Linked DNA regions of Homo sapiens: regions 2, 3 and 4 are each linked to region 1. The links come from fine-mapping of genetic effects on gene expression. A gene starts in region 1. Each other region holds a variant in brackets. All regions are shown on one strand. Distances are from middle to middle. Region 1 holds the start of DHX34 (DExH-box helicase 34). Region 2 overlaps ZNF541 (zinc finger protein 541). Region 3 has its middle 20 kb from the start of MEIS3. Region 4 overlaps DHX34 (DExH-box helicase 34).

Region 1 (5,779 bases):
CTGCATAAACTGCCCCTTAATCTACATGTAATTAAAAATAGGTATAGGCTATTTTTATACCTATATAAATAGGTATAGGCTAAAAATAGGTATAGGCTGGGCGTGGTGGCTCATGTCTGTAATCCCAGTACTTTGGGAGGCCAATGCAGGTGGATCACCTGAGGTCAGGAGATCAAGACCATCCTGGCTAACATAGTGAAACCCTGTCTCTACTAAAAATACAAAAAATTAGCCAGGCGTGTTGGCGGGAGCCTGTAGACTCAGCTACTCGGGAGGTTGAGGCAGGAGAATGGCGTGAACCCAGGAGGCGGAGCTTGCAGTGAGCCGAGATCACACCACTGCACTCCAGCCTGGGTGACAGAGCAAGACTCCGTCTAAAAAAAAAAAATAGTAAGAAAGAAGGAAAGACACAAAGACAGAAAGAAGGAAGGAAAGAAAGCAAGCTGTTTTCCCCTGCCTTGCCCCTGCTCACCTTTGAATTCTTTTCTGGGCAAAGCCAAGAACCCTCGTGGGCTAAAACCCCGCTTTGGGGCTTAAAGTTTGCAAAATCCTCCCATTAATCTATTGGGACCAGTTGCCACTTAGGAGCATTCTTTGATAACTTTTACAAAACATCTTTTGTGGTTTTTGAAATGTTTTCATTTTGTAGATCATTAGCCCTTCTTTTTTGAACTGGAATACATTTCACGGGAATTTTCAAATTTAAGTCTGTGCAATGTTACATAAAATACCTTTGATTATTAAAAGCCATCTGTTTTGCTATAACTTCCCTTTTTTGTTCTAAAGTTTGTCTATTTCTGCTATTTGTTTTTTTACCATAGAAATATTGATTTCCTTAAGTTTTCAAAGAACCAAGTTATTAATAATTTCTCTAAGAACTAGTCTCAAGCTTGCTATACAATCCTATGGTTGATAGACTGTGGCTTTCTTGTTGATTTCCATTTGTTGTTCATTTCCTCCAATTTTCCTTTTTTAAAAATTATAATTATTGTTTGGATTATTTATTTATTTATTTATTTGTTTGTTTGTTTATTTGAGACAGAGTTTCTCCTTGTCGCCCAGGCTAGAGTGCAATGATGCGATGTTGGCTCACTGCAACCTCCACCTCCTGGGTTCAAGCGATTCTCTTGCCTCAGCCTCCCGAGAAGCTGGGATTACAGGTGTCCGTCATCATGCCTGGCTAATTTTTTATATTTTTAGTAGAGACGGGATTTCATCATGTTGGCTTAGCTGGTCTCGAACTCCTGACCTCAGGTAATCCACCTGCCTCGGCCTCCCAAAGTGCTGGGATTACAGGCGTGAGCCACCGCACCTGGCCTTGTTTGGAAATTTTAAGCAGAATGCTTAGTCCATTTATTCTTCTTCTTTTGATAATAATGTATGAATTGGCTTCTCTATCTCTAAGTTGTTTTCCAGAGGCTTGATAATTATATCCAACGTTCCACTTGACATCCCCAGTTGATGTCCAATGCATAACTCAAACAATATGCTGAAAACAGATCTTCGGATTTTCTCTCTAGCCTCTCTCCCACGTCTTCCTGATGGTAGTAGATGGTGACTCCATATTTCCAAATGCTCAGGCCAAAAACTTTAGAGTCCTTCTTTTTTTTAGACATAGAACTTTTTTCTGGCCAGGCACGGTGGCTCATGCCTGTAATCCCAGCACTTTGGGAGGCCGAGGTGGGCGGATCACGAGGTCAGGAGATCGAGACCATCCTGGCTAACACAGTGAAACCCCGTCTCTACTAAAAATACAAAAAATTAGCCGGGCGTGGTGGCGGGCGCCTGTAGTCCCAGCTATGCGGGAGGCTCAGGCAGGAGAATGGCGGGAACCTGGGAGGCGGAGCCTGCAGTGGGCCGAGATCGCGCCACCGCACTCCAACCTGGGCGACAGCGAGACTCCGTCTCAGAAAAAAAAAACAACAACACTTTTTTCTTTTTTTGAGACAGTCTGGCTCTGTCACCCAGGCTGGAGTGCGGTGGTACCATCATGGCTCACTGCAGCCTCAGTCTCTCAGCCTCCTAGGTTCAATCGATCCTCCCACCTCAGCCTCTTGAGTAGCTGGGACTACAGGCACACACTACCATATCCGACTAACTTTTGTATTTTTTTGTAGAAACAGGGGTTGGCCATATTGCCCAGGCTGGTGTGGAACGCCTGACCTCAGGTGATCCACCTACCCCGGCCTCTCAAACTGTTGGGATTACAGGCGTGAGCCGCCGTGCCCAGCTGTTTCTTCTTTCAGTTAATAAAAGAGAGGGTGCATTGCTGGCTAATGAGATTGTTTCTATACTTGGGGGTCTTCCTGAATGTGTGTGATTGAGTTTATTGCAGAGAAAGGTAACAGAAAATGGGGTTGTAGAAAGAAAAGAGGTAGAGGCTGAGTGAGATGCCCCACATCTGTAATCTCAGTGCTTTGGGAGGCCAAGGCGGGCGGATCACTTGAGATCAGGAGCTGGAGACCAGCCTGGCCCAAATCGTGAAACCTCGTCTCTACTAAAAATACAAAAATCAGCCAGGTGTAGTGGTGTGCGCCTGTAATCCCAGCTACTCGAGAGGCTGAGGCAGGAGAATGGTTTGAACTTGGGAGGCGGAGATTGCAATGAGGTGAGATAACGCCACTGCACTCTAGCCTGGGAGACAGTGAGACTATGTCTCAAAAGAAAAAAAAAAGTTCCTGGGCCCCAGACCAGCTCTCTCTTTGGGTTAAAACCCCGGCGTCCCGGAGCTGAGGCGCACGTGGCTATGCTTGGGGAGGAGAGGGCGGGGCCGGGGAGGAGGCGCTTGCAAGTCTGTACCGCAATGCCTCTACTGGCCTCTAGAGGGCGCAATCACTCGAGGCTCCGCCCCAAGCGAGGCGGGGCGGAAGCGTGCTGTGCACAGGCGCAAGATGGGTCTTGGGCAGCCCAGAGCTTCCGATTGGCTCTTCTGTGGTGGCGGGGCGGGGTCAGAACGAGATGGCTGTGTGCGCAGGCGCAAGACTAGCGCTCTTGGGACCGGAAGTTAAGGCGTTCGCGGCGTGTGGTAAGTGAGGGGGGCGGGACGGGTGTACCGGGTTGTGGCGGCGATGGCTGTCGGAGTTGGGCCGCTTGGGGGTAGTTTGGGGTGCGAGTCCAGGGGCGAGGGAAGTCTCGAGATGAGGAGAAATGTAGGAGGCAGCCGAAGGGCCGGCAAACGCGGACAGAGATGGCACCTGAGCGTCCCTGGGAGAACCTGGGCGACAGGCCAGAGACCGAAAGAAATGGAGGCACGAAAAGAAGCTTCGAGAAACTGAGGGACTGAAAGACGAGGGTGTTGGGAGAGGAGGGAAGCTGAAAACTAGAGAGCGTGGGCGAGAGTGCCGATGGGTTCCAGCGAGAGTCTTAGAGCCCACGAGGCCGAGAGGCGTGGTCGCCCATGAACTTGGGGAGTGGAGGGAAAAGTCGGAAACTGATCGTGGACACTAGAAACAGAAAAAATGGAATTTAGATGGAGAAACGAGACACTGAATCACGGGGGAGACCGAGAGATACGGAAGGATGGAGACAGTTGAAATAGGAAGAACCCCACAAAAGCTGGAGATAATGGAGAACGATGCTGAGAAATGGAAAAGCGAGGGAGTGGAGCCCGAACCCCTGGATTTGAGTGGCTCATGTAACACTCGGCTACTCACTTAGCCTCTCTATTGCTCAGTAAAATAGGGGGTGATCATAGTGCCTGACAGTCGTGAGAAAAGTGTGTGTGTGTATGTACATAGGTGTGGGATAGGAATAGATCATGCAGATAGGATAGGTCTGTGTGTTAATGTGAGTAAGTAAGCATGAGCTATTACTAAAGCTTCTGATATTGGGAGATAAAGTATTAGATGGGGAAATGGAGAGAGGTGGTGATGGAGAGTGAATACTGGAAGGACAAAAGGGAGGAAAAAAAGATTCAAACAGAAAATGAGAAAGGGCGTGGTGACTCACTCCTGTCATCCACAGCACTTTGGGAGGCTGCGGTGGGAGGATCACTTGAGCTTGGGAGGTCGAGGCTGCTGTACGCCGTGATTGTGCCACTGCACTTCAGGCTGGGTGACAGAGTGAGACCCTGTTTCAAAAAAACAAAAATGAATTTTTTTTTTTTTTTTTTGAGATGGAGTTTCGCTCTTGTTGCCCAGGCTGGAGTGCAGTGGTGCGATCTTGGCTCACTGCAACCTCTGCCTCCTGGGTTCAAGCGAGTCTCCTGCCTCAGCCTCCAGAGTAGCTGGGATTACAGGCAGGTGCCACCACCCTGGCTAATTTTGTATTTTTAGTAGAGACGGGATTTTTCCATGTTCGTCAGGCTGGTCTCGCACTCCCGACCTCAGGTGATCTGCCTGCCTCAGCCTCCCAAAGTGCTGGGATTATAGGCGTGAGCCACCATGCCCGGCCTGAAAAAGCATTTTTTTTTTAATGAGAAAGATGGAGAAAGTCAAATGGAGAACTGAAGAGAGATGGAGAAAGGAAGAGTTGGATTACAGAGAAAAATCAGACTACAGAATGACTCATAAGTGAAGAGAGATGCGAGCTGACTAGGACAGGGAAGAGAGATGAGGGTGATGATGAACAAGACGGACTGAAAAAGAGACAGAGGCCTGAAGATGGAGTGGAGAGAGATGGAGGGGACAGAGGGGGAAACAAACCCACTGAAGGCCATGAGCCCAGGGCAAATAGGCCAAGAGACCAAAAGATGGTCAGAGACACAGTTATACAGAAACTAGAAGATGCAGACAATCTAGAAGCCAAAAAAGATAGATACCTTGAGAGGAGCGGGATGCTGTCAGTGGGGCCCAGCATGCATAAGCAGTTTCTAGCCTCAGAAGAATGCTCTCATTTTCTTTTTCTTTTTTTTTTTTTTTTTTTTTTTTTGAGACAGAGTCTCGCTCTGTTGCCCAGGCTGGAGTGCAGTGGCTCAGTCTTGGCTTCCTGCAAGCTCTGCCTCCAGGGTTCGAGTGATTCTCCTGCCTCAGCCTCCCGAGTCGCTGGGACTACCCGAGTAGCCAGGTGCCCGCCACCACACCTGGCTAATTTTTTTTCTCCAGCCTGGGTGACAGAGCAAGACTCCATCTCAAAACAAAAAAGACTCCAACTGTAAGCAAAAAGGCATTTTCTGGTGTAGCTGAGAAGTGGGGGGTTGAAGGGAACTAAGCTTCAAGACCTAAATGATGTTGCCAAGCTTCTCTTCCTCTCCCTCTTTCACCTCTCCCTGTGGTGCAGTGACCATTCTTGTGCCTGTATCTAGTTATTTCTCTAGGATAGATTTTAGGAAAGACTCTGTCATGTTCCAGAGCTACCACAAAGAGCTCCAGGCTTATATCAAACTTGCCTGATTATGATGGATAAAATGAGAGCTTTTCTGTCCTAGCAACCGAGTGTAAATTCCACAAAAGGGCCCTGATTGGCCCTTCTTGGATCATGTGTCCGCTTCTCAGGCCAATCCTTGGTTAGAGGGGGAGTAGACTACTAAGACTGGCCAGGTCTTTGTTACTTGCCTACCCAATAGGGGTTCTTTGTCTTAAAGGCCCTCAGAACCATGTAGAATCGAGGAAGGGCTGTTGTCCAAAGGAAGGTGGATACTGTCCTCAGAAAAGAAGTAAAGGGTTGTGCCAGGCAGGCAAAAATTACATATAACACTTGCAAAATTTTGCCTTTTATCTCAATGTTCTGAATCTCACTGGACCCCGGGTGAAGAACCCTTGCCTTATTCTTTTCATTATATCACACCTCTCTCCTATTACTGCCTGTGGAGACAAGGTTCTGCTGTTGGTTGGCCATGTGA
Region 2 (5,779 bases), 180 kb after region 1:
GAGACATCACTAAGTTTAAAAAAAAGTTGGACTTCTGCTTCTGAACAAGATGGAGCAACAGAACCAGATTTACCCTCTCGTCCAAAACAATGAAAACACAGAGTCAAAATATAAACAATGTTTGGCAAGACACCAGGCGTCATTCAACAAAGGGCAGTGAACCCTGACAGGAAGCAAGCTGCCACCGCTCCAGCTTATCAACTTGTGTTTCCAGGCCACCACCCAGGCAGGGGCAATTTAGGCAGAACCCAGCAGGACTTAGGGAGCTGAGGTGGAGCACAGTGCCTCCGGAGACCACGGCGGTAGAGCCCACAGGACAGAGGATGGGAGAGGAGAGAGCTACACACAGAACATTCCAGAGATGGGGAGCAAATTTCCCCCAAGAACTCACCCAAAGACTGCCCAGCACATGCATGGGAAGAGACCAGCCAAAGCTGGGCAAAGAGCCATCCAAAAGGATGAGAGGGGAAAGTGTGTGCTGCTCCTACAGGGCCAGGAAGAGTGCCCGTTCCCACAGCCAGAGTGGGAAATTTTATGATGCAGGGGGCACTGGGTAGGGCAGTGACACAGTCTTGCCTCAGTAAGGAGAAATAATCAGCCTTAGAGAAGAGCTATGCTGGTCCCATCTAAAAAATCTAAAACTGAACCTAAAAGTAACTGTGTCCCAGAACAAAACTCAAGAATATTTACAAGGCTGCAAAAATATCCAGCATCCAACAGCTAACATTCACAATGCCCGTGATCTGGTGAAAATCACCATGCACGCAAAGACGCAGGATAACACGGCACATCAGGAGGAGAAAACCCAATGTATCAAAGTCAACCCACCAGAGACACAGGTGTTAGAATGAGCAGGGAAGGACATGAAAGGTTACCATAACTGTTTAATATATGTTCAAAGAGTTATGCCAGAGGCCAGGCGCGGTGGCTCACTTGAAATCCCAGCACTTTGGGAGGCCGAGGCAGGAGGATCACCTGAGGTCAGGAGTTTGAGACCACCCTGGCCAACATGGGGAAACCCCATCTCTACTAAAAATACAAAAAATTTAGCCGGGTGTGGTGGCACGCACCTGTAATCCCAGCTACTCAGGAGGCTGAGGCAGCAGAATCGCTTGAACCCAGGAGGTGGAGGTTACAGTGAGCTGAGATCGTACCACTGCACTCCAGACTGGGTGACATAGCGAGACTCTGTCTAAAAAAAAAAAAAAAAAAAGAGTTATACCAGAGCTAGGTGTGATTGCACACACCTGTAGTCCCAGCTACTCAAAGTTGGAGGATCACTTGAGCCCAGGAGGTCAAAGGGTGCAGTGAACTATGATCACACCCCTGTACTCCAGCTTGGGCGACAGAGTGAGATCCTAGATCTTAAAAGAAATAAGAACCAGTAAAACCTTCAAAACACTGCTAAGAGAAATTAAAGATGATGCATAGAGACACAGCCCCTGTTCATGAGTCAGAAACTGAATGTTGTTAGAATGTCAACTCTCCTTGGCTGGGTGCGGTGGCTCACGCCTGTAATCCCAGCACTTTGGGAGGCTGAGGCAGGTAGATCACCTGAGGTCAGGAGTTCAAGATCAGCCTGGCCAACATGGTGAAACCCTGTCTCTACTAAAAATACAAAAATTAGCCAGGTGTGGTTGTGCGCACCTGTAATCCCAGCTACTCGGGAGGCTGAGGTACGAGAATCGCTTGAACCCGGGAGGTGGACGTTGCAGTGAGTGAAGAGCGCGCCACTGCACTCCAGCCTGGGCAACGAGAGTGAAACTCTGTCTCCAAAAAAAAAAAAAAGTCAACTCTCCTCAATTGGCCTATAGAGCCAATGCAGTACCAATCAAAATCCTAGCAGGTTTTTTGTTTTGTTTTGTTTTGTTTTTTTTGGTAAAAATGGATAAGCTACTTAGAAAGTTCATATGGTAATACATGATCTTAAGACTTAGAAAGCTACAGTAGTAAAAACAGTATGGTATTACATTTTTTTGTCTTTTCAACAAAAGGTACAAATGAATATCCACATGCAAAAAATGAACTTTAACTCATACTTTACACCATATACAAAAATTAACACAAACTGAATTGTAAACCTAATTGTAAAACCTAAAACTATAAAACTTCTAGAGAAGGCCGGGCAAGGTGGCTCACGCCTGTAATCCCAGCACTTTGGGAGGCCGAGGCGGGCAGATCACGAGGTCAGGAGATAGAGACCATCCTGGTTAACACGGTGAAACCCCGTCTCTACTAAAAATACAAAAAATTAGGCGGGCATGGTGGTGGCATGTGCCTGTAGTCGCAGCTACTCGGGAGGCTGAGGCAGGAGAATGGCATGAACCTGGAAGGCGTAGCTTGCAGTGAGCCAAGATCTCGCCACTGCACTCCAGTCTGGGCGACAGAGCGAGACTCCGTCTCACAAAAAAAAAAAAAAAAAAAAAAAACTTCTAGAGAAAACAAGGGGAAAATCTTTGTGGTTGGGTTAGGCAAAGAATTCTTAGATACAACACCAAAAGCACAGTCCATAAAAGAAAAATTAATAAATGACTTCATCAAAATGACAAAATTTTTCTTTAAAAGACATTGTTAAGAGATTAAAAAGCTACAGATTGGGAGAAAACATTCACAAAGCATGGATCTGGATAAATGACGTGTCCTGAATCAATAAAGAACTGCTGTAACTCAATAATAAAAACACAGCCGGCTGGGCGCGGTGGCTCACGCCTGTAATCCCAGCACTTTGGGAGGCCAAGGTGGGCAGATCACCTGAGGTTGGGAGTT[C/T]GAGACCAGCCTGGTCAACATAGCAAAACCCCGTCCCTACTAAAAATACAAAAATTAGCCAGGCGTGGTAGCAGGCGCCTGTAATCCCAGCTACTCAGGAAGCTAAGGCAGGAGCATCGCTTGAACCTGGGAGGCAGAGGTTGCAGTGAGCATGGATTGCGCCACTGCATTCCAGCCTGGGCAACAGAGTGAGACTCCATCTCAAAAAAAAAAAAAAAAAAAGAAAACACAGACATCTCAATAAAAACATATGCAAGAGATATGAACAGACACCTCACCAAATAAGGCATACAGACAGCAAACAGGCCCATGAAAAGATGCTCAGCATCGTCAGTTGTGAAGGAAACACAATGCGATGCCACCACACTGTCATGAGAATGGCTGGAATTAAAAGGACTGGCCCTACCCAGGGCTAGCGAGTTTGTGGAGCAACTAGAAATCTCTTTTCCTGCCGGTAGGAATGTGAAATGATACAACTACTTTGGAAAATTGTTTGGCGGTTTCTTAAAAAGTTAAGCATACACCTACTAAGTCATTCCATTCCTGGTATTTACTCCTCTAGAAAACAAAGTACATGTCCATACCAAGACTGGTACCTGAATGTTCATAACGAATTTATTTATAGTCATCCCAAACTGGAAACCACTCAAATGTCCACCAACAGGCAAATGATTCTTTAAACCGTGGTACATCCACCCAGTGGAATACTATTCAGCAGTGAAAAGGGGAGACCTATCAATACCTGGAACATGGATGAACTCAAAATCATGATGCTGAGTGTGAGAAAGCTGGACCAAGTAGAGTCCATACTGTGTGACTACTCCATTTATAGCAAACTCTAGGAAATGAAAACGAATTTACAGTGCCCTGGCAGATCAGTGCTGACTGAGGACAGGGGGTGCAATGGGGAGTGATTACTATGTGGCAGGAGGAGATTCAGGGCTGAGGGACATGCTCATTATCTTGACTGTGGTGATGGTTTCCCAGGTATAGTATCAATATGTCAAAACTTAGCAAATCTTATTATACTGCAATTATGTGCAATTTTGTATACATCCAATTTTTTTTTTAGAACAGAAAATAAGCAGCAGGACATTATATGCAGTGAGATCTCATCCTTTGGCTTTTTTCGGGGTGGTGAGAGTCTCATCTTGTCACCCAGGCTGGAGTGCAGTGGTGCAATCTTGGCTCATTGCAGCCTTCACCTCCTATGCTCAAGCAATCCTCCCACCTCAGCCTCCCGAGTAGCTGGGACCACAAGCACGCGGCACCATGCTAGGCTAGTTTTTAACTTTTTTGTAGAGACAAGGTCTCACTATATTGCCCAGGCTGGTCTTGAACTCCTAGCCTCAAGCAATCCTCCCACCTTGGCCTCCCAAAGTGCTAGGATTACAGGCGTGAGCCACTGCGCCTGACCTCATCCTTTTTTTCTTTTTTTGAGACGGAGTTTCACTCTTGTTGTCCAGGCTGGAGTGCAGTGGCGAGATCTTGGCTCACCGCAACCTCCGCTTCCCGGGTTCAAGCGATTCTCCTGTCTCAGCCTCCCGAGTAGCTGGGATTACAGGCATGTGCCACCATGCCCAGCTAATTTTGTATTTTTAGTAGAGACAGGGTTTCTCCATGTTGGTCAGGCTGGTCTCGAACTCCCAACCTCAGGTGATCCACATGCCTCGGCCTCCCAAAGTGCTGGGATTACAGGCATAAACCACCACGCCAGGCCCTTTTTTTTTTTTTTTTTTTGAGACAGAGTCCTGGGCCGGGCGCCGTGGCTCACGCCTGTAATCCCAGCACTTTGGGAGGCTGAGGCAGGTGGATCACCTGAGGTCGGGGGTTCGAGACTAGCCTGACCAACATGGAGAAACCCCATCTCTACTAAAAAATACAAAATTAGCTGGGCATGGTGGCGCATGCCTGTAATCCCAGCTACTCGGAAGGCTGAGGCAGGAGAATCGCTTGAACCCGGGAGGCGGAGGTTGCGGTGAGCCAAGATTGCGCCACTGCACTCCACCCTGAGCAACAAGAGCAAAACTCCGTCTCAAAAAAAAAAAAAAAAAAAAGAGACAGAGTCCTACTCTGTTGCCCAGCCTGGAGTGCAGTGGCACAATCCCCACTCACTGCAACTCTGCCTCCCGGGTTCAAACGATTCTCATGCCTCAGCCTCCTAACTAGTTGGGATTACAGGCACTCACCACCATGCCCGGCTAATTTTTGTATTTTTAGTAGAGACAGGGTTTCACCATGTTGGCCAGGCTGGTCTTGAACTCCTGATCTCAAGTGATCCTCCCGCCTTTGGCCTCCCAAAGTGTTGGGATTACAGGCGTAAGCCACCATGGCCGGCCCTTATCTTTTTTAAAGTACATGCATACCTATATATATAAAATTTGTACAGACAGAAATGCCTGTTGCTTGGTGGAATAGGTAACAGAGGTTGCCAAGCAGAAGTAGGACTGCGGGGAGGGGCATGGAAGACTGTTCTGTGCAGGTGATGCAGGTCTGTACCATCTGGAGCTGTTCATGAGGATAGCTTTTTGACATTGTAAACTGTCTACAGTAAGAGTGCTGCCACAGGCAGGTGAGGGTGGGGCCCTCCGACCCCCGACCAGCCCTGCAGCTCTAGCTTGTCTCAGCTGTGTGAGGCAGGGCCTTGGACACCAGCCCACATTCACTTTACCATCTTGTGTATCAAGTAGAAGTCCTTCTTGTGGGCATAGAACGCCTTCTTAAAAAGCCTCTTCTCTATAGGGGTCCAGACGTCTGAACCTATCAAAGAACACAGCCAACAGGGGGAAGGCCATTTGTCCTGGGACCACAGCCATGGCTGAAATGCAGACCACCTTCCCATTTATAGCTGCCATTACTGAGTACCAATTATGTGCCAATCTCATAAAAAACTCAAAAAGTCTCCAGAAGGGAGGGACCACTACTAGCCCCACTTAACAGATGTGGCAACTGAGGCTTCAGTCGCTTGCTAAAGGCAGGTGGGGGCCCTGGCATCCTGTTTCCAGAGCTGATG
Region 3 (5,779 bases), 50 kb after region 1:
ATCTGTTACCTATCTCAGCATAATTATCATAAAAACACAGGTGCTCTCCCTGCTGATCGTGTCCAATTAATCTCCCAAACCTCAATCCCTTATAAAACAACTCCTTTCCTTCCTAGGCATGGTTAGTGTGGTCAGAATTCTTACACAAGAGCCAGGACCGCACCCTGTAGCCTTTCTGTCCAAACAACTTGACCTTACTGTTTTAGCCTAGCCCTCATGTCTGCGTGCAGCGGCTGCCGCTGCTTTAATACTTTTAGAGGCCCTAAAAATCACAAACTATGCTCAACTCACTCTCTACATTTCTCATAACTTCCAAAATCTATTTTCTTCCTCATACCTGACGCATGTACTTTCTGCTCCCCGGCTCCTTCAGCTGCACTCACTCTTAAGTCCCACAATTACCATTGTTCCTGGCCCGGACTTCAATCTGGCCTCCCACATTATTCCTGATACCACACCTGACCCCCATGACTGTATCTCTCTGATCCACCTGATATTCACCCCATTTCCCCATATTTCCTTCTTTCCTGTTCCTCACTCTGATCACGCTTGATTTACTGATGGCAGTTCCACCAGGCCTAATCGCCACACACCAGCAAAGGCAGGCTATGCTATAGTACAAGCCACTAGCCCGCCTCTTAGAACCTCTCATTTTCTTTCCATCGTGGAAATCTGTCCTCAAGGAAATCACTTCTCAGTGTTCCATCTGCTGTTCTACTACTCCTCAGGGATTATTCAGGCCCCCTCCCTTCCCTACACATCAAGCTCAGGGATTTGCCCCCACCCAGGACTGGCAAATTAGCTTTACTCAACATGCCCCGAGTCAGGAAACCAAAATACCTCTTAGTCTAGGCAGACACTTTCACTGGATAGGTACAGGCCTTTTCTACAAGGTCTGAGAAGGCCACCGCAGTCATTTCTTCCCTTCTGTCAGACATAATTCCTCAGTTTAGCCTTCCCACCTCTATACAGTCTGATAACAGACCAGCCTTTATTAGTCAAATCAGCCAAGCAGTTTTTCAGGCTCTTAGTATTCAGTGAAACCTTTATATCCCTTACGGTCCTCCGTCTTCAGGAAAAGTAGAACAGACTAAAGGTCTTTTAAAAACACACCTCACCAAGCTCAGCCGCCAACTTAAAAAGGACTGGACAATACTTTTACCTCTTTCGCTTCTCAGAATGCTGCAGGGTACAGCCTATTTGAGCTCCTGTATGGACAATCCTTTTTATTAGGCCCCAGTCTCATTCCAGACACCGGACCAACTTAGACTGTGCCCCCAAAAAACTTGTCATCCCTACTATCTTCTGTCTAGTCATACTCCTATTCTCCGTTCTCAACTACTCATACGTGCCCTGCTCTTGTTCACACTGCCGGTTTACACTGTTTCTCCAAGCCATCACAGCTGATATCTCCTCGTGCTATCCCCAAACTGCCACTCTTAACTCCTGAAGTAAACAAATAATCTTTGCTGGCAGGACTATGCTGAATCTCCTTAGGCACTCTCTAATCAGATGTCCTGAGTCGTCCCAATTCTTAGACATTTTATACCTGTTTTTCTCCTTCTCTTATTCCATTTAGTTTTTCAATTCATACAAAACTGTACCCAGGCCATCACCAATAATTCTAAATGACAAATGTTTCTTCTAACAACCCCACAATATCACCCCTTACCACAAAATCTTCCTTCAGCTTAATCTCTCCCACTCTAGGTTCCCACGCCGCCCCTAATCCCGCTTGAAGCAGCCCCGAGAAATCGCCCATTCTCTCTCCATACCACCCCCCAAAAAAATTTTCGCCGCCCCAACACTTCAACACTATTTTGTTTTATTTTTCTTATTAATATAAGAAGGCATGAATGTCAGGCCTCTGAGCCCAAGCCAAGCCATCGCATCCCCTGTGACTTGCACGTATACGCCCAGGTGGCCTGAAGTAACTGAAGAATCACAAAACAAGTGAATATGCCCTACCCGGCCTTAACTGATGACATTCCACCACAAAAGAAGTGAAAATAGCCTGTTCCTGCCTTAACTGATGTCACTGTCTTGTGAAATTCCTTCTCCTGGCTCATCCTGGCTCAAAAGCTCCCCCACTGAGTACCTTGTGACCCCCCACTCCTGCCCACCAGAGAACAACCCCCCTTTTTCCTTTACCTACCCAAATCCTGTAAAACAGCCCCGCCCTTATCTCCCTTCACTGACTCTCTTTTTGGACTCAGCCCTCCTGCCCCCAGGTGAAATAAACAGCTTTATTGCTCACACAAAGCCTGTTTGGTGGTCTCTTCACACGGACGCGCATGAAAAGTCTCATCGTCACAGTCAGGAACCTACACAGAGACACACAACCTATACCAAGGCACGTGTGACGGACACCGCCACTCAGCGACA[G/C]ACACACACACCACATTCAGCAACAGGACACGGGCGGTGCCTCCAGCCACACCGACATCCCTCAACCACTGCCCTCGACCACCACATTCCAAGTCCACAGGCCCAGAGGACACACAGGGGTCAGACACACACCAACTGCAGCCCCCGAGCCCCGCCTGCCTATCCCCTGGGTCCTCACCCCACGACCCAGGATGCCCCTGAACCAGGGGCCCCTCCTGCTCTGAGATGCCAACCTACCATACACGCAGGTCCAGTGGCTGCTTCCTCCTCTCAGGAAGTGGGGGAGATATTTTTAGTTACAATTAACCTCCCACCCAATTTCCCTTCTCCCCAGGCACATCCAATTGGTTTAATTAGAGATGATTAAGTTAATGAGAGGCATTTCCAGATTCTGGGAAAAGGGGGAGGAGGGGAAGAGGAGAGCTGTCCCCTCCCCAACTTCCCAGTGTACCAGCCGCTGGGACCCCTTCCCAGCACCAGGCAGGGGATACACTAAGCAACTGCCTCCCCTCTCAGCCGACCTCAAAGTCTTGGCCTGGCCCTGCCCCTCCCCCATATTCCTTCCCCCACCTGCCATCAAGGGAGGGTGATTGTTTGAAGTCCTTCCTGCTGTCCACCCATCACCCATCCCACCTGAGTCCCGGGGAGTTTTGGGAGAGAGAAACTCTCATCATAGTCACGAAAACAATATCAGGCCAGGTGCGGTAGCTCACGCCAGTATTCCCAGCATCTTGGGAGGCCGAGGCGGCTGGACGGCTTGAACCCAGGAGTTCAAGACCAGCCTGGGAACACCATGAAAAGCCATCTCTACCAACAAATATAAATAATTAGCCAGGCATGGTGGTTTGTGCCTGTAGTCTCGGCTGCTGAGGAGGCTAAGGAAGGAGGATTGCTGGAGTGTTGGAGTTTGAGGCTGCAATGAGCTGTGATTACAGAGGGAGACCCTATCTCAAAAACAAAAGCAATTTAAAAAATTAAAAATCAGGCCAGGCACGGTGGCTCACATCTGTAATCCCAGCACTTTGGGAGGCCGAGGCAGGTGGATCACTTGAGGTCAGGAGTTCGAGACCAGCCTGGCCAACACAGCAAAACCCCGTCTCCACTAAAAATTACAAAAATTAGCCAGGCCTGGTGGTGCATGCCTGTAGTCCAAGCTACTTGGGAGGCTGAGGCAGCAGAATTGCTTGAACCTGGAAGGAGGAGGTTGTGGTGAGCTGAAATCACACCCCTGCATTCCAGCCTGGGCGACAGAGTGAGACTCTTGTCTCAAAAAAATTAAATAAATAAATAAATAAAAATTAGAATTTCAGAGAATTCTATTTTAAGAAAAAGAGGCTGGGGCCGGGCGTGGCAGCTCACGCCTGTAATCCCAGCACTTTGGGAGGCCGAGGCGGCGGATCACCTGAGGTCAGGAGTTCGAGACTAGCCTGGCCAACATGGCGAAACCCCATCTCTACAAAAGTACAAAAATTAGCCGGGCATGATGGTGGGTGTCTGTAATTCCAGCTACTCGGGAGGCTGATGTGGAAGAATCACTTGAACCTGGGAGGTGGAGGTTGCAATGAGCTGAGATCACACCATTGCACTCCAGCCTGGGTGAGAGAGACAGTGAGACTCCATCTCAAAAAAAAAAAAAGAAAAGAGAGGCTGGAAGCACAGTGGTTAGTGTCCAGGCCCTGGAGCCAGGCTGCCTGGGTTCAAATGGAGCCCAGCCTCACAATCTCCAGCTGTGTGACCTTGGATGAGCCACTTCACCTCTCTGGTCCTGCTTCCTCACCTGGGAAATGGGGACCGTGATGGCACCCACCTCCTGGGGCTGCCATAGGGTTTAACAGATTCCCAGGTATACGGCTCCTAGAACAGAGCCTGGGACACAGCACTTACTGAAGGGCTCCATAAGGTCATAAAAGTGGCAGCCCATGCTCTCATCCTGTGCCTGTTCTGCTTTTTGTGACACTCATCCCTTTCTTCCTTTTTTGAGATGGAGTCTCGCTCTGTCACCCAGGCTGGAGTGCAGTGGCATGATCTCAGCTCACTGCAACCTCCACCTTTTGGGTTCAAGGGATTCTCCTGCTTCAGTTTGCCAAGTAGCTGGGACTACAGGCGCCCGCCACCATGCCCGGCTAATTTTTATATTTCAGTAGAGATGGGGTTTCACCATGTTGCCCAGGCTGTGTCCTCAAGTGATTTGCCTCCCAAAATGCTGGGATCACAGGCGTGAGCCACCACTCCTGGCCTATCCTAAGATTTTGTTCATTCACTCGTCTGCTCAGCGGATATTTTCTTTCTTTTTTTCGGGGGGCAGAGGGGGACGGAATCTCGCTCTGTTGTCCAGGCTGGAGTGCAGTGGTATGATCTCAGCTCACTGCAACCTCTACCACCTCCTGGGTTCAAGTGATTCTCCTGCCTCAGCCTGCTGAGTAGCTGGGATTACAGGCATGTGCCACCACACCTGGCTAATTTTTTGTATTTTAGTAGAGACGGGGTTTCGCTATGTTGGCCAGGCTGGTCTTGAACTCCTGACCTCAAGTGATCCTCCCACCTCGGCCTCTCAAAGTGCTGGGATTACAGGCGTGAGCCACCGCGCCCGGCTGAGTGTGGCATATCTTCTGTGCATCCTTTATGTGTGTGTATGTTTCCGAGTGTGCATGTGCGTATTTGCATGTGTGTCTGTTTGTAGCGATGTGTGTCTCTGTGCAAATCTCTCCATCCAGGCCCACCCCAAAGGGACTCCGGGGGTCCAGGAACACATTTTTCACGGGGTCCTTCAAAAACCCACACACGTGCCCCTTGGGCCTTGAGCACAGAGCAGCAGTGTACGTGGTTGGGGGTGCCCGAGAGACTCAGAGGTCCAAGGATGGCTCTGGGGAGAGGATGGCAAAGGGGGCGCTTGGATGGCGGAGGGGCTGAGGGGCACTTGGGAGAGGGGACTGGAAGGCAGTGAGCCAAGACGAAGCAGCCCGGGTCTGAAGGAAAGAGCTCACCTGGCCTCTGAAGGAGAAGGGAGGGGGAGGCCCCGAAGATGTGGGTTTCCAGTGGGGAAGGGGACAGAGAGAGACAAGGTCTGAACAAGACAGAGACAGAAAGAATGGCTGGGCGCGGTGGCTCATACCTGTAACCCCAGCACTTTGGGAAGTGGAGGTGGGTGGATCACCTGAGGTCAGGAGTTCAAGACCAGCCAGGCCAACATGGTGAAACTCCGTCTCTACTAAAAATACAAAAAGTAGCCGGGCGTGGTAGCGCATGCCTGTAATCCCAGCTACTCAGGGGGCTGAGGCAGGAGAATCGCTTGAACCCAGGAGGTGGAGGTTGCAGTGAGCTGAGATCCCAGCATTGCACTCCAGCCTGGTGTGGGCAAGAAAGTGAGACTCCCTCTCAAAAAAAAAAAAAAAAA
Region 4 (5,779 bases), 33 kb after region 1:
TGCCTCACATAGACAGGGCTGGTGGGTGGGCAGGAGCCCAGCCGGGCAGGGCCTGTCTCCAATAGCGCCCTGCCCCTCCCACCTACTCCCTGTCTTCTGCCCCCTCTCTTTCAGTCCCTCCTGCTTTTTAGCCGGTCTTTGGACACCAATGGTGACTGCTCCCGCCTGGTGGCCGATGGCTGGCTGGAGCTGCAGCTAGCAGACAGTGAAAGTGCCATCCGACTCCTGGCGGCTTCCCTGCGGCTCCGTGCCCGCTGGGAAAGTGCCCTGGACCGGCAGCTGGCGCACCAGGCCCAGCAGCAGCTGGAGGAGGAGGAGGAGGATACGCCAGTCAGCCCCAAGGAGGTGGCCACCCTGAGCAAGGAACTCCTGCAATTCACGGCATCCAAGGTACCCTCCACCAGGGTGCCCGTGCCTCCCTATGGCCAGAAGGGGCATCCGTCACTGGGCTTGAGCCTCGGGAAGGCCTGGCTTCCCATTCACTCCACATGGGCACATTTGGGGGTTTTCAGGCCACAGAGGTTCAGTCACTTACACAAGGTCACTCCACTGGTCTGGGTGGAGCTAGGATTTGATCCCAGGAGCCTGGTTCCAGAGGCCACACTACCCACTGCTGCCTTGTTTACTAAGCACCTTCTGCAAGCGTGGCTGATCCCCTCTTGCTAACAGTAAAGGACAGGCAGGGTGTGAGAGGGAAGCCGTAGACGTCTGCTTGTGGATGGGAAGAACTGAACTGAGCAGACTTGAAACCAGCCCCTGACTCTTAGGTGGGGAGTGGAAATTGCTCGTGGTTCTACTTCATGTGGGTGGGGTGGGGAGAAGGGTACAATCCAGGCTGACTTCCTGGAGTAGAAGGGCTTGAGGACAAAGGAGCAGGAACCCAGTGAGCCATGGAGAGGGGACCAAGGCTGACATGCTAGGAGGAGGAGGGGGGAGGTGGCCAGACTTGAAGGTTAGACTCAAGGTCTGAATGGGGTCCCACCAGTGACAGGGGCAGAAGAGGGGCCTGGGGAGGGCAATTTAGATGGGGGTGGGTTATCAGGTATATTCTAGACAGACCCCTGGTCATGTGTGTCTGCAGCCAAATTGTGATTGGTGTAAGCACTTGGCTCCCGTAACTGCAAAGCCCGAGGGAGGGCTTCAGGCACAGCTGGATCCAGGTGCTTTGGCGGCATCTCCCTGAGTCTGTCTCTCTCCATTTCCTGTCTCTCCTTCCTTAGATTCCTTACAGCCTCCGGCGGCTCACAGGGCTAGAAGTCCAGAACATGTATGTGGGACCCCAGACCATCCCAGCCACCCCCCATCTTCCTGGCCTCTTTGGCAGCTCCACCCTGTCCCCCCACCCCACAAAGGGGGGCTACGCAGTCACTGACTTCCTCACCTACAACTGCCTCACGGTAAGCATGAACCCTCCTTCCCTGAAGGTGGGATTTCAGGAAGACCCCACCACCCCGTTTCACCTTAGTCCAGGGACATAGTTCCCAAGTGGGGCCCGTGGCCCTGAGGGCTTCTGGGAAGGGTCCCGGGGGGGCACTTGGGTGGTGGGTGGCACTTGGCGGGGGCCCAGCCCTGACAGCTGGCCTGCCACAGAATGACACAGACCTGTACAGCGACTGTCTCCGAACCTTCTGGACCTGCCCCCACTGTGGCCTGCATGCGCCCCTCACGCCCCTGGAGCGCATCGCCCATGAGAACACCTGCCCCCAGGCCCCACAGGATGGGCCCCCAGGTAAGCACAGGACTGTGGGGACCCGGCCACCTCTGCCCAGCCGTCTGCCCATCCCATGATGGTCTCCTGTGCGTGTGAGCACTTGCTAGAGCTTCGAGGACTGACGACCTCCACCCGCTGGCCCTGGCTGGTGCCACACACAGGCCTTGTCCTGAAGATCAGGAGCCCAAGGCAGGGAGAGCCTGGAGCGCCACCTCTTTCTGTCTGCCTGTCCCCTGTGGTGTCTCTGTGTTGCTGTCTTTGTCTCTGTTTCTGTCTCTCTGTGGCTATGTCTCTTGTTATTTTTCTCTGTCCTGCAGCTATCTCTGCCTTGGTCACCTCCACCCTGTTGTCACCCAGGGATGCCACACACTGGGGTTCAGTGGGGGAGATAGCACTGGGGCCACATGCCTCCATCCCCGGCTGGCTGTGTCTGCCTCTCAGTCTCCATGTCTCTCCTTGTGTCTTTCTCTCTGTCTCTCTCACTGGCAGGGATGCGGAGTAAAGACAGACCTGTGTATTTTTATTAATCTGGGAGGGCTTCCTGGAGGAGGCAAAACTGGGTTCTCCAAAGGCCAGGAGAGAACCTGAGCCCCACAGGTGCCTGGCATTTGGGTGCAGGTAGACCTGTGCACTGGAACACGCCCCTCACAGCCTCCTCCTTTTCCTCCCTTAGGGGCTGAGGAAGCTGCCCTCGAAACCCTCCAGAAGACATCTGTCCTGCAGAGGCCCTACCACTGCGAGGCCTGCGGGAAGGACTTCCTCTTTACACCCACAGAGGTGCTGCGCCACCGGAAGCAGCACGTGTGAGCTGGGCCAGGAGCCCTGCCCACCTCCGTGCAGCTGACCTGCCCTCCAGCCCAGGACTAGGGGCAGGACTCTTGCCTGAACCCCCAGCCTGGGCTTAGCCCTGTGGTCCTGTCCCAGTGCAGAGGGCCTGGAGCACGGATTGTGAATAAAGCCTCACATGCTGATACACACTGTTAGGCCTGCACCTGCCCATCCAGAAAGCAGCAGCTGCCTTGTTAGTCCTCCCCAGGGTCTAGCTTTCCTTCTTCCTGCTGCAGGGTGCTGCCTGAGGGGTCCTGGGTAGGAGGGGCGTTAGAGCCAGCAGGGACCTCCCATGTCTCCAGATTCCAGGTGCAGGTTCTTAGCACCTCCGCAGCCGCTCTCTCTTGAGTCCATCCTCAGTCTCTCCTACCCCTTGAAGTAGGGGGACCCTGAATTTGCCCATCCACCTGGGTCACTTTGAGAGTTGTGCAGGGGGGCTGGGAGCACTGGTGTTCACGTGGGACCACAGGCTGCACCATAAGACCCACTCACAATAAAAAAATAAAAGGCCGAGCCGGGCATGGTTGCTCACTCCCGTAATAAAAAAATAAAAGAACAGGCTGAGCCGGGCAT[G/A]GTTGCTCACTCCCGTAATCCCAGCACTTTGGGAGGCTGAGGCGGGTGGATCGCCTGAGGTCAGGAGTTCGAGACCAGCCTGGCCAACATAGTGAAACCCTGTCTCTACTAGAAATACAAAAACTTAGCTGGGTGTGGTGGTGGGCATCTTTAATCCCAGCTACTGGGGAGGCTGAGGCAGGGGAATCACTTGAACCTGGGAGGCAGAGGTTGCAATGAGCTGAGATCATGCCATTGCACTCCAGCCTGGGCGACAAGAGTGAAACTCCATCTCAAAAAAAAAAAAAAAAAAATCAGGCTGAGGCAGGTGGTTTGCCTGAGCTCAGGAGTTTGAGACCAGCCTGGGCAACACGGTGAAACCCCATCTCTATTAAAATACAAAAAATTAGCTGGGCGTGGCAGCGTGTGCCTGTAATCCCAGCTATTCAGGAGGCTGAGACAGGAGAATTGCTAGAACCCAGGAGGCGGAGGTTGCTTGTGAGCCGAGATCGTGCCACTGCACTCCAGCCTGGGTGACAGAGCGAGACTCCATCTCTAAAAGAAAAAAAGAAAATGAAAAGAACAATAAAATCACTCAGGAGAAAAAGAAGGCACGGCATAGGAATGGAAGGAGGACAACCTGTAGGTCCTACAGATGCGAAAAGGAGAAGAGAATACGATAAACAACGTGCCACACAGAAATTCACTCATTTGAAATGGAAAAAATTATTGAAAGACACTAGCTACCCAAAGCTCATTCAGGAAGAAATAGATAACCGGAACAACTCTATTAAGGAAATGTAATTCATAGTTAACAAAGAGAACAGGCTCAGATGGGCTCCCTGGTGACGTCTACCAAACATGGAAATGATACTCGCCCACACCCACTTGGCCACAGCATAGGGGAGGACGCCTCCTGACTGATGTTATGAGGTCAGCATTATCCTGCTGCTAAAAGCAGGCTATGACAATGCAAGAAAAGAAAACTCTAAGCCTTATGAACATAGACAAAAACCCTAAATAGGAGTTCAGCACATCATATTTAGCAATATATAAATACAGTACATCATGGCCAACTGGGGCTTATTCTAGGAATGGAAGGTTGATTTAACATTTGAAAATCAATCTGATTCACCATATTAGAAACAGAAAAAAAAAAAAAGGTTGGGCATGGTGGTTCATGCCTGTAATTCCAGCACTTTGGGAGGCCGATAAGGGTGGATCAGTTGAGTCCAGGAGTTCCAGACTGGGATGGGGAACATAGCAAGACCCTGTCTCTATTAAAAAACACAAAAATTAGCCAGGTGTGGTGGTGCACGCCTATAGTCCCAGCTGCTCGGGAGGCTGAGGTGGGAAGATCACTTGGTGTCAGAAGGCAGACATTGCAGTGAGCTGAGATTGTGCCACTGCACTCCAGCCTGGGCAACAGAGCAAGACCCCATCTCAAAGAAAAAAAGTATATAAACCCCTAGTCTTAGTCAGGGAGATGGATTTGAGAGTCATTTCCCATCTCCTTGGCTGCACATCTCATTAAAGCCTTCTTCTTGGCAATACTCGCTTTAGTGATTGGCTTTCTGTGCGACCAGCAGCAGGACCTGGACTGAACCCCTGATTTTTGGTAACAGATTCCATTCAACAGTTTTTTTTTTTTTTTTTTTTTTTTTTTTTTTTTTTTTTTTTTTGAGGCAGGGTCTCGTTCTGTTGCCCGGGCTGGAGTGCAGTGGTGCAATCTCAGCTTACTGCAGCCTCCACCTCCTGGGCTCAAGTGATCCTCCCAAATCAGTCTCCCAAGTACCTGGGATTACAGGCATGTGCCACCATGCCCAGCTAATTTTTGGGTGTGAATAGGTTTTTTTGTTTGTTTTTTGTAGAGAGTTTCACCATGATGCCCAGGTTGGTCTGGAACCATGGGCTTCCTTTCTTTCCAAGGAAGAAGGCTTTAATCAGATGCGTGGCTGAGGAGATGGGAAATCAGTCTCAAATCCGTCTCCCTAACTAAAACTAGGGGTTTATATACTTTTTTTCTTTGAGATGGGGTCTTGCTCTGTTGCCCAGGCTGGAGTGCAGTGGCACAATCTCAGCTCACTGCAATGTCTGCCTTCTGACACCAAGTGATCTTCCCACCTCAGCCTCCCGAGTAGCTGGGACTATAAGCGTGCACCACCACACCTGGCTAAATTTTGTGTTTGGTGATCTGCCCACCTCAGCTTCCCAAAATGCTGAGATTACAGGTGTGAGCCACTGCACCCGGCTCATTCAACAGTATTTATTTAATTTATTTATTTTTGAGGCGGAGTTTCGCTCTTGTTGCTGAGGCTGGAGTGCAATGGCTCAATCTCGGCTCACTGCAACCTCCGCCTCCCGGGTTCAAGTGGTTCTCCTGCCTCAGCCTCCCAAGTACCTGGGATTACAGGCGAGTGTCACCACACCCAGCTAATTTTGTATTTTTAGTAGAGACGGGGGTTTCTCTATGTTGGTCAGGCTGGTCTCGAACTCCCGACCTCAGGTGATCTGCCCGCCTCAGCCTCCTAAAAATGTTGAGATTACAGGCATGAGCCACCACGCTCAGCCTCAACAGTCTTTTAAAATGTTCCTCTTGAAGGCTAACATGCACAAATTATAAGTAAACAGCTTGGTGAATTTTCCCAGATGAAACATACCTGTGCCAGCAGCACCCAGATAAAAAAA

Evidence for each region. PIP is the estimated chance that this variant, and not a neighbour inherited with it, causes the effect. A credible set is the group of variants that fine-mapping cannot tell apart.
Region 2: its variant is the best candidate, but not a certain one, in a credible set for the expression of DHX34 in whole blood (TOPMed, PIP 0.80).
Region 3: its variant is the best candidate, but not a certain one, in a credible set for the expression of DHX34 in monocytes after LPS (Fairfax 2014, PIP 0.68).
Region 4: its variant is the best candidate, but not a certain one, in a credible set for the expression of DHX34 in blood mononuclear cells (TOPMed, PIP 0.79).

Annotation. Positions count from the first base shown.
Region 1 is chr19:47,346,328-47,352,106 of GRCh38, forward strand. It overlaps DHX34 (DExH-box helicase 34), which reads left to right and starts at 2,988. Exons shown (of 17, transcript NM_014681.6): 1 at 2,988-3,025. C5AR2 (complement C5a receptor 2) reads left to right here. Exons shown (of 2, transcript NM_001271749.2): 2 at 1-1,002. RefSeq lists an enhancer at 2,828-3,732.
Region 2 is chr19:47,523,513-47,529,291 of GRCh38, forward strand. ZNF541 (zinc finger protein 541) reads right to left here. Exons shown (of 17, transcript NM_001277075.3): 14 at 5,438-5,526. Among named protein-coding and RNA genes, the nearest start is that of NAPA, 11 kb to the left of the region's middle. The variant C/T (reference allele first, on the strand shown) is at 2,767.
Region 3 is chr19:47,396,459-47,402,237 of GRCh38, forward strand. No RefSeq gene overlaps it. Among named protein-coding and RNA genes, the nearest start is that of MEIS3, 20 kb to the right of the region's middle. RefSeq lists enhancers at 1,700-2,367, 5,432-5,779. The variant G/C (reference allele first, on the strand shown) is at 2,386.
Region 4 is chr19:47,379,596-47,385,374 of GRCh38, forward strand. It overlaps DHX34 (DExH-box helicase 34), which reads left to right. Exons shown (of 17, transcript NM_014681.6): 14 at 115-390; 15 at 1,221-1,397; 16 at 1,591-1,729; 17 at 2,385-3,109. The coding sequence ends at 2,518. Among named protein-coding and RNA genes, the nearest start is that of DHX34, 33 kb to the left of the region's middle. The variant G/A (reference allele first, on the strand shown) is at 3,113.